3 linked regions of the Homo sapiens genome follow. The protein of the gene in region 3 purifies or fractionates together with the protein of the main gene of each other region. This does not show direct contact. Each region holds a gene or a part of one and is shown on either strand. Other genes may lie near its edges. The genes, in order: LEPR, PDIA5 and SERPINI2.

The links.
Region 1: the proteins of SERPINI2 (region 3) and LEPR purify together in Homo sapiens (affinity purification with mass spectrometry; one large-scale study listed by BioGRID and IntAct). This does not show direct contact.
Region 2: the proteins of SERPINI2 (region 3) and PDIA5 purify together in Homo sapiens (affinity purification with mass spectrometry; one large-scale study listed by BioGRID and IntAct). This does not show direct contact.

The regions. Positions count from the first base shown.
Region 1 is NC_000001.11:65,602,104-65,605,758, forward strand, and holds part of LEPR (leptin receptor isoform 1 precursor), read left to right. Parts: intron 1-2,934; coding exon 2,935-3,134; intron 3,135-3,655. UniProt on the Homo sapiens protein: Receptor for hormone LEP/leptin. On ligand binding, mediates LEP central and peripheral effects through the activation of different signaling pathways such as JAK2/STAT3 and MAPK cascade/FOS.
Region 2 is NC_000003.12:123,139,943-123,143,597, forward strand, and holds part of PDIA5 (protein disulfide-isomerase A5 precursor), read left to right. Parts: intron 1-3,655.
Region 3 is NC_000003.12:167,467,514-167,471,168, forward strand, and holds part of SERPINI2 (serpin I2 precursor), read right to left. Parts: intron 3,609-3,655; exon of another isoform or gene 3,552-3,608; intron 2,174-3,551; exon of another isoform or gene 2,058-2,173; intron 1-2,057.

The sequences.
Region 1 (3,655 bases), on a different chromosome or scaffold from region 3:
GGATTATATAAATTGGTGATTCTTGAAAAATATTCACACCTGAGATTAAAAAATTGTAATTTGTTTTTACTTCAAATTATCTTTTCTGAAAATCAATCAATTCTGAAAAATTTGTATTTTAACTCTTGAATGAAATGCAAGAAAATGTAGTTTATATATATTTTAATTTGACTTAGTTGACTAGAGGAGAATGTGAAAGATTATAAAAGTTTCGTATCATTTGGCTAAAGATTAATGTTTTGGAAAAAAGAGGTAAAAACAGATTATAAGAGATAATATGAATGGTTTTTAGAACTGAGTGAGATTACTTAGGAAATAAATACTTATGGTTAATAAAGGGTAATGTGTTCTAATGAGAAGTAATTTGTGCTTGTTTATTTTTACTCTTCTATGTTTTAAAAAGAATTCAAGGCATCGTCTTATAGTGGTCCCTTTCTTTCTAAAATCATTTTATCTAAAATGATACAACCCTTGATTATATAATAGATTTTTATTTTTAAAAATATCCCATAGTAGTAGTCAAGTAAATATATACTGCTGTTAAACACTGTGTCCCAATTTATATTTTTATTTGTAGTGGAGACTTTCAATTTGTATAACATGCTCATTTATTCTTAAAATATAAATTTTCAACTAGAAAAATAAATCCCTTCTCTCAAATACTGTGATCTGAAGTCTATTCCTAATGCTGCCAGTCTCTTCTTATGTAGCGTTAGGAAAAAAATGTGGCAATTCGTACATTTCTCAAATAGCTGCCTTCATCCTACCTAATATGAGTATTTTAAAATCAGTAGAATTGTTCATGATATGAAATTTTACTTTTATAATCTGTCTTTACATTCTTTTCATGGCATTTTCACATTAGAAAAGGTGTTTATGGAAAACTATTATGTTAAGCCCCATGCCTTGTTTCTCTTATTAACATTTACAGAATAACTATGAAACTACATTTACTTGGGTGAGTTTCTTAACTTCCCTAAGCCTCAATTTCCTTGTCTGTAAAACAGAGAGAATAATAGGACTTACAGTGTTTCTGCGAGAGTTAATGACATATTTCATCTAATTATAATCACATGGTATAATTTCTCCTTGTAAATATTCAATATATGGTTTTTGCTGTCATGATAATGATGCCAACTTTTCGATTTCAAGTGTACTAGTACTGTGCTTCTACTTTGTTCTTATTTTCTACCCCCAGATGACCCCTCACTCCTCATTTTCATTTTTGCCCACGCACCACCATTTATTCACACACACACACACACACACATTCATGATTGTAATTTTGAGAAGACAAGAAAAAGAAGTGGTATAGAAAATAGAAAATGACAGAAGAATATAGATTTTTTAGCTTCTTCTAACTTCCTCACTCCCATCTCTTTGGAAAGAGTAATTGCTACTTCAGCTATTTAAATATAGTATTCAGAGCAAACATTGGCCCAAGAGGTTATTTCAAAGAAGAGGAAAAAGACTTTATGTCAAGTTTGTCCAACCCATGGCCTGGGGCCCCCATGTGGACTAGGATAGCTTTGAATGCAGCCCAACACAAATTTATAAACTGTCTGAAAACATTAGGAGATTTTTTTTGCAACTGGTTTTTTTTTTTTTTTTTGATTCATCAGCTATCGTTAGTATATTTTATGTGTGGCCCAAGACAGTTCTTCTTCCAGTGTGGCCTAGGGAAGCCAAAAGATTGGACACCCCTGCTTTATGGGTTCTGAGGTGGAGTGTTGGCTAGGACTCACTTATAAAATTTTTTTTAAATTTTCTTTTCTGAGAAAATGAGGAATATACATGGTTATATAATTCACATACATATCTGAAATTGGTATTATATTAACTTATATTAATTTGAACTAGAAAATTATATTCACCACTCATTTGTGGTGAAATTTAATTCTTTCTTCAAAGTGTGAGGAATTTGCCTTCCTTGCCATCTCAGGAATGCTCCATGACTACTTTCATCTATATTTTAAATATTCTATCACTAATACATAATGTTTGTTTAATTTTCAAATTATTGTAGGTTCTGTCTCTAACTGGATCATTTTCTTCTTTTTAGAGTATTTATTTCATTTGCATCCCTGCTTAGTGTCTAATGAAATATTTAATAAGAGTTACTGTCAGTTTCTGTGGAAAGATATAGAATTGGGAAAAATTAAAAAATGCCTTTCTAATAAGAATGTCTTTTTTTAGATGGAGTGAAATTGTCTGTATTTTATTTATTTTAATTTAATTTAATTTAATTTTATTTTGTTTTTGAGACAGTCTCCCTCTGTCGCCCAGGCTGCAGTGCAGTGGTACCATCTCCGTTCACTGCAACCTCCGCCTCCCCAGTTCAAGCGATTCTCCTGCCTCAGCCTCCCTAGTAGCCAGGACTACAGATGTGCATTTGTAGAGACAGGGTTTCCCCATGTTGCCCAGGCTGGTCTGGAACTCCTGGGCTCAAGTGATCAGCCCGCCTCAGCCTCCCAAAGTGCTGGGATTACAGGCATGAGCCACCGCACCGGGCCTTCTGCCTGTCTTTTAAACTTGGGGTCCCCAGTCCCTGGGCCACGGACCGGTACCTGTCTGTGGCCTCTTAGGAACCCGGCCACAAAGCGGGAGGTGAGAGAGCAGCATTACCACCTGCGCTCCACCTCCTGTCAGATCAGCGCAGCATTAGATTCTTAGAGGAGCAGAACCCTATTGTGAACTGGGCATGCGCTCCTCATGAGAATCTAATGCCTGGTGATCTGAAGTGGAACAGTTTCATCCCGAAATCCTGAACCATCTCCCATCCCCCATTAGTGGAAAAATTGTCTTCCATGAAACCGGTCCCTGGTGCCAAAAAGGTTGGGGACTGCTGTTTTAAACAACAAATCAGAATTCTCAGATATCTTCTTGTTGCTTTTATTAATGTATACTAATTGACTATTTTTGTATCTTTTAAAGGAGCAGCCTTTACTGTTCTGATATTCCATCTATTCATCCCATATCTGAGCCCAAAGATTGCTATTTGCAGAGTGATGGTTTTTATGAATGCATTTTCCAGCCAATCTTCCTATTATCTGGCTACACAATGTGGATTAGGATCAATCACTCTCTAGGTTCACTTGACTCTCCACCAACATGTGTCCTTCCTGATTCTGTGGGTATGTCAAGCTGCGTTGTGTCTTCATTTGTGTTAGCAGATTTGTATGCAGATTGATGCAGATTTAATGTTATATTTTGCCATTTTCTGATCACATTAGATTTTGAAAAAAAAATTGTTCCTGTTTACAGTGGTATTGAGAAAATCAGCCTTAGGAAGTTTTACAGTTTTGAATTCATTTCAAATTATTTATAGCAGACTTTTTTTAGCAATAGGAATATTTTCTGCACACTATTAGATGAAATACATGGGTCATTATGAATGAATTTTAGTAGTGTTTTTCTAAATAAGGCATTATTTTATGTTTTTGTTCCAATGTAGTTATGAAAACATGTAATATTTGTAATCCAAACGTTTAATTTGAATATTCTGAGGTTCTCAATAATCTGAGTACTCATAACTCAAGCCTTTAATTTGTGAGGCTATGTAGGGCACAGAAGCATTTAAAATAGCTAAATTGAAGTGGAGGAAATAGACAACAATGACATACATTATATTTTAAACATTCTTTTCAAAAAACTT
Region 2 (3,655 bases), about 44 Mb from region 3:
AGCAGATTACTCCAGCTGCTTTGAGTACAATTGAGAAAATAAAACAGGATATTGGGAGAGGGCATGATAGCATGAGGCGCCTTTGGGATAGGTGGTCAGGGAGGGTCTCCTAGAAGGTGAAATTTGAGTGGAAGCCTGAGTGGCTGATGTAAAGAGGGGTAAGCCGCATACAGACCTGGGGGAAGATGTTGGTATGTATGCTCCAGGTGGGTAGGAAAGAACATGTTCCAGGGCCCTGGGGTAGAAATGAACTTGGTGTGTTGGGAGAAGAGGAGAGCCAGAGGCTGCAGTAGAAGTGACCTGAGTTGAGGTTGAAGGTAGGCAGGACTCAGCTTGTGTGGGGTCTGTAGCCATAATAAGTTTGGATTTGAATCTACCTGTGATAGGAAGCCACTGTAAAGTTTTAAGCAAAGGGATCTGATCTGATTGATGTTTTGAAAATATACCCCGGCTGCCCTTAAATATCAGAAGACAGCAATATCACAGTCACAAAGCAACACAAAATTAAATGCCATAGAAATATCTGAATAAGAAGTATTTTGTAATTAGAAGAGAGACAGATCATTCGATGGGGCTACAGTGAACTGGGAAGACTCAAAGCAGGGGCCAGAACAAAGGTAGGATTGCGAGGGGTTGTCCAGGGTGGATGTTGCCTATCCATCAGAGCAGGGGCTGGGAGGAAGAGGTGGCAGGTGGTGATGGCCCTGGGGGATTTGTCACTTCGTCTTCCAGAGCTACAATTTCTGGCACTGTAAAACGGACCTACTGAGCTGTGTCATGTGTCTGGTGGGGCTGCTGCGATAGAGTGTGGAAGCCCAGCACAGACAGCGAGTGCTTTCCTTATAGAGGTGGGGAATTCTGGGAGCTGAGGCCAAAGCCCAGGAGACAGCCATGTGTGCGAGCTGCGGAAACTGGAGGTCTCCTGGTATTGACCCCAGCTGGCTTCCCATGCCTGTGGCAGACGTTGCAAGTTGGTCACAGCTCCTCTTCCCAGTGAGCGAGTTCTCAGACTCAGCCTCTGTCTCAGGCCCACCGCTGATGGAAGCTGGCAGGTGGAATGAAACCCACTTGCCACCCTGGCAGGGCAGTGGCATCAAAGGCCTGGAGCCTGATAAAGGGATGAAGTAAACCTCCCTACCAGCACACAGTGAATTCTCATCTTCAGGAGTCCTGCCACATCAACAGGGTCACTTTAGAAAGCAACAGTGATTCTCAGTGAATGGCAATGGCTGGCTTTTCTTTGTCTTCCCTCCCCTGATTCCTACTCCAGTCCCACTGTCCATCTTGACCATGGGCCCTGCCAGCAGCTGGCCTAACAGCACCATCCATATCATGGAGGGTATGGGGAGAGTGGTCAAGGGAGCCTCTCTTTCCTGCCTCTCCCACCTCCCTGGAGGCCACCCAGGGCCTCATGCCTGCATTTCCCGAGGCCTCCCAGTGTGTCCTCCACTATGTGCTGCTGGGCTGAGTCAGTCTGTCTCAGGGCAGTGGACCTTTGGGGACTTTGCATGGACCACTCACATCTCTCCAGAGCAGGTTGAACTCTCGGGCGATAGACTCACCGCCACAGGAGAGTCTCTGAGCTTCCTTCTCCTGCAGTTTGTTCATGCAGGGTGAGCCCCCTCACTCTGCCCCAGTCAGGGGAGGTCAGCCTGAAAGCAGGAGAGTGGGGGGCTCACCTTGGACAGGTGCAGGGAGCAGCAGCTTGGGGTTGCCCCCGGGGCAGGGAGATCCCTTTAAGAGCTGTAGAACTTTTTCATCCTGACCGTGGCCCCAAAGGATGGTTTACTCCACTCTATTTTAGTGAGAAGCAAAAAAATAATTTTTTAATCTTAATATACCTCATATTAAGTCAGTAGAACCTTCTGCAGATTATTCCATTTACTCCTGACATGTGGGCCAGTGTGGAAAGACATCTAAGCCTGGGCCCCTGTGCATCAGCTCTCCGTGTTCTTCCGCTTTGCCTCCCATTGGACAGTGATTGGCTTGGAGTCCGGTGGTCTCCTTTGTCCTGGGCTCCTAACCCCAGTTCTGTGAGCAAGTTCAGGTAGTCCAGGATCCCTCTGGAATTGTACATACATGTGGAGTATATGCATCAGTGTGGGGAAGGGGAGGAGAGGCTTTTGTGACAATCTCAAGAATGTCAGTGCCTGGGAGGCACAGACTCCTGCCCCAGCTCTCCCTGGTCCCTCTTGGAGTTCTTCCTCTCACTGCTGAGGTGGGGGTCGCTGCCTAGAGGGAGCGGCCTGCCTGCTGTCCCCACTGGATCGCGGGCTGCACTTGTCCCATTGGGAGCAGGCTCAGGGAAATACAAATAGCACTGCGTGCTTTTATGTTTCAGGTGCATCCTATTAAATGGGCTTTTGCGGTTGCCCCTGGGAATCTGCATGTAATCGGTGTGTAAAATTGTTTCTGAGGGGAAAACAAACAGCCAACTTACCAAAACAACCCTTTTGTGACTGGATTATTTAGGTAACACATGGCTCATGATGATGCTAAATGTTCATTTCTGGAAAGTGATATTCTTGTCATTCAAAATAATGATGACCTTGATACCTCTACAGCTTATGATGGGGGGATCCCAAGTGGGGTCTAGTCAGACCGTGAACTCCCAAAGTCATCTAACCCTATGTGCATTTTTCTGGAAGAAGGGTTTACCACTTTGATCATGATCTCCACAATGTCTGACTGCAGGGGACATTAAGAATATCTGCTGTGGAGAACAAGGCCAGGAACAGCCAGGCTGTCTTGCCCAGCCCAGGGGCAGCCTCTGGGGGGGCCGAGCTCAGCAGTCCCAGAGGAGCCCTTAGGAGCACTTTTGGGGCTATGTGCCTTGCTCAGCCCTGGCAGCGGAATTCTGCACTGCTGAATTGAGCATGGGGACGTCCTCATTTCTCTGAGGCTGCCCCTGCCCTCCTGACTGGGTCCTCTGTCCTCTGTCTCTAACTTGCCCACATGTGTCCTTTCATCTGCCACCTCCAGGAGGTCTTCTCAAGCCCCTGGTCAACCCAGGAGTTGTCTACTAATTATTTAATTAGGTCTCTTCATTGCTGACCAGTAAATATTTATCATGTATCTATTAAATGGTGATCCTTTTGCTTCATGGGGAGGTACAAGGTAAAAAAAAACCTCAGGTCCCACCTTTAGAGAGTCACCATCTGGGGCTGGGCATGGTGGCTCACACCTGTAATCTCAGCACTTTGGGAGGCCAAGGTGGGTGGATCACAGGTCAGGAGATCGAGACCATCCTGGCTAACACAGTGAAACCCCATCTCTACTAAAAATACAAAAAATTAGCTGGGCGTGGTGGCACATGCCTGTAGTCCCAGCTACTCGGGAGGCTGAGGCAGGGGAATCACTTGAACCCAGGAGGCGGAGGTTGCAGTGAGCTGACATCGTGTGCCACTGTACTCCAGCCTGGGTGACAGAGCGAGACTCCATCTCAAAAAAAAAAAAAAAAAAGAGAGGCACTGTCTGGTACCTAGAGCCCAGCATGATGAGTGTGTAGTGTGGGTACAATATGTAATAGGGCTACAAGCAGCTGCCGGCTCCCCTGGGGCTGCCAGGGCAGGTGGAGTGCTCTTCCTCTGGTTCATCCCTTGAAGGCATCATGTGTGCCACTCTATTCCCCTCTGGACCAAAGACCATGGTCCTC
Region 3 (3,655 bases):
TTGAAATTTGTCAAAAAAAAGAATATGCATTTATAGAAGCTGAAGGAAAGTCCCTCTTGATAGTCACATTTAGCGCATTTTTAGTTATTGAAATTTATGTTTAGAATCTTATTTGCATAACGTGAGCATGTGATACCTATGAAAAGGGAATGCTAATGAATGCTGATGGGGGCATGACAGTGATGAGCAATCCTTTTCAATATTACTTTTATTTCAGCTGAAGAAAAAATTGTTCTCTTATAAGCAACTGCACCTGTACAGGTTTTAAATTTTACAAGGCAACCTCTGTAATCATCTCTAGAGATGCGTAAGAATCAGAATTGCCTATTTCTACAAGTTCATGAATTTATATACTTTGGCTGTCGACATCAACAATAAAAATCTTTAACCATTTTAACTCTAACCACTAGCCAAAATAAGTCAGTCAGGGTCAACTAAAAGAATCACTTTCGGCCTATTATTTATTTTTGGACTGTTCTGACTGTAGTGTTGTCTGGAAGCTATATATGCGTATGAGAGAACTCTACCCTGATATTAGGTTCAATAGCTTCCTGTTCATTGCAAAAGTGTACCAACAGTTTTCATTTCCTTCTGGCTTAATCTTAGAACTCAATCATTAAGTCTTGTAACTCTATTTCAAATAGGTTCTTTCTGGGCCTTCATTATATTTTCAGTTAAATACTGCAAATGCCACTTTCATAACCTAAAATTGATATATTCAATTAATCTTTATTCAAGAAAACCGGGTATTACTAAGAGGGACTTACTACTAGATTTCTACTGGAAATAAGGAGGATGTGTGTGTGTGTGTACCTAAGCTTGTGTAAATACATTTTTTTTTTTAAATCAGAAAGCTAGCAGCCCATAGGTCATCTTTGTGCAAATAAAAATAGTTCCCTCTCTGGGGGCTGGGCAGCTCCATGGCCTCTCATCTTGTCCAGCTGGGTTACAGAGGCTACATTTCAGTCCCTACTTGCCTTTTTGGCCTGGCGTTCTCACAGCCTCACAGGAGGCTCTATGAAGTATACTGCATTATATTTCAAACTCCAGGATTCTCTGTTCACTGGTATATAGATACAGGTATAAACAATTTCAGATATAAAAAAAACTTACTTCCATATGATTAGATCTGAAGAATTTCAGTAATTCTTTATAACCCTGAAATTCCTTACATAAGGAAGGGAAGAAAGTTAAGCCATTTTACTTATTTGTACAATGATTTCAGATGTAACCATTTATTGCTATCTGAAGCCTGAAACAAATATCTCAATAGCTGGGAGGCTACAGAAAAGGCTTTCTGAGTAAAGACACGAGAGCTTTTCCAAAAGAATTAATTAAGGTCAGAAATGAAGTGACAGAATCTGAAACTAATTTTCAGAAATCTGAAATACATGAACATCTTTAAAGGAATAAAAAAAGAGAGAAAGGGAGAAAAAGTAGTTCCAAATCATTTGTCAAAGCAAATAGATTTATGTCATGTACTTAAGGTCTAAGTCTATGTGACAAACAGCTGCCCTTTGATAAACTGTTGAACTCAGAAGTCAATGAAAAAAATGTCACTAAGTAGTACAAGTTTGGAGAAGAATATAACATTATCTGCCCTATAAATTTTATTTCGTTTCTAGATTAATGACATTTTTAGCACAGATCAAAAATTATATATCTCCTAATAAGTAATGACAACAAGTTTATTTCATTTTCTAAAATAGAGCCATGGATAACCCACAGGTCATGGGTGAATGTGGCTCTTGATTTGATTGTACCAGACCTCCAGAAAATGTTCTAAAATTCAGTGCATGTTCTCTTCTGCTAGTAAAAGTCTAAAAGCCAATTTTGTGTGCATATGGGAGATCCAAAGATGAAAACAAACGTAGTCGTAGAATTATAGATTATTTCAGCCAAAAGGTCCAAATAAATTACCTAACCTCAACTTTTCTTTTTACAGTGAGGAATCTGAGGCCCAGAGAGATTAAGAAGCTTCACAAGTGACATGACTTGTGCCAAATCACAAGGTCATTTAGTTGCAGAACTGGGACAGGAATTCATGCCCAGTTCTCTTTTCAAAACCCTGTGGAAAAAAGAAGCACATTGAATTTAGCCTTTGATTCGTCATCAGCATTATCAGAGGTAAAGCAAAAGGGAGTATTAACAGATGTTCAGCAAAATGGAGGAGGTAAATTCAGAGCAGATGTTTTGACAATGAAGTAAAGAAGGAGAACTGAGGACACTGAGAGCCTTACATAATATATGAGAATTAATATTCTTATTAATATATTAGTGAGAATATATTGCTCTTATATTCTTAATCCTCACTGAATTATTTTAGGAATTAGCACTGAGCAAATTATTTAACCTTTCTTTGCCTCAGTTTTCTCAGGTTTATTACAAGGTTGTTTACTTAACAAAGTAATTATAAATATTAAATGAGAGAATATATATTAAGCACATGAAACAGTGGCTGATATCCTTTCTATATTTTTGATAGTGCGTTATTACTATTACTTTATCATGTTCACAATTCACACCTGTTAAAACTTCTGTGTTTCTCTATATCATGTATCCATTTAAAGTAATTTAAGTTTTCAGAGACTCTAATTTATGTATCTTCACAAATATTGTATTACTTTTTCAAAGCTATAGCATGTGGTTTAAACGTTTCTGGGAGTGGTATATTGGGATTTGCTGAAATTAATCAAGACTAAATCTGGAATACATTGGCTTCAGTGTGCACTATTTGCAAAGAAAAATTCTTACAATTAACTTCACTTCACTATTACCAACGTCTTTTCTGTATAAAATTGTCTTTATTTAAAATGAAGCAAATAAAATCTTGTAAATAGTATTTTCAGGAAAGCAAATTTCTAAATACTGCTACTCTGTGATAAGAAAAATACACTGAAATTATAGTTGTAGCAACTAAATTCCCAAATCAAAAATCTGTATTTAGAACACAGTATCTCAGAGTAATCCAAAAGCTGAAAATTAAAACAACTATAGAAACTGAGAGCATGAGATAGCTGAGGAGATGAGCAACAACTTTTTTTTTTTTTTTTTTTTTTTTTTTTTGGAGAAGGAGTCTGTTCTTTTGCCCTGGCTGGAGTGCAGTGGCACGATCTCAGCTCACTGCAACCTCTGCCTCTTGGGTTCAAGCACTTCTCCTGCCTTAGCCTCTCAAGTAGCTGAGACTATAGGCACATGCCACCATGCCTTGCAAATTTTTGTATTTTTCCAGCCTGGTCTCGAACTCCTGACCTCAAGTGATCCACCTGCCTCAGCCTCCCAAAGTGCTGAGATTACATGTGTGAGCCACCACACCAGCCAAGCAACAATTCTTTCAAATGGGATGCCAGCACAAAAGCACAGTATCCCAGTAAGAGGGATAGACACTATCCCAGACAGTCCATGAGGAGACTCCAACAAAACAATCATCATTCACAAGCACAAAGGCCTCTGATTATTTAAATCCTTTTTTTTCCATTTTCCTTTTAAAACTAGTAACAAATAAGCTTTTAAAATGAACAAATTAATGTTTTTTCTTGGTCTCGTTACAGATGAGGTGCATTTTTTTTAAGAGAAATGTTGGAAACAACCTACTGAAGAAAGGCTAAGTAAGTAATGGTACTTCTATAAGAGGCAATAAGATACAGTAATTAAA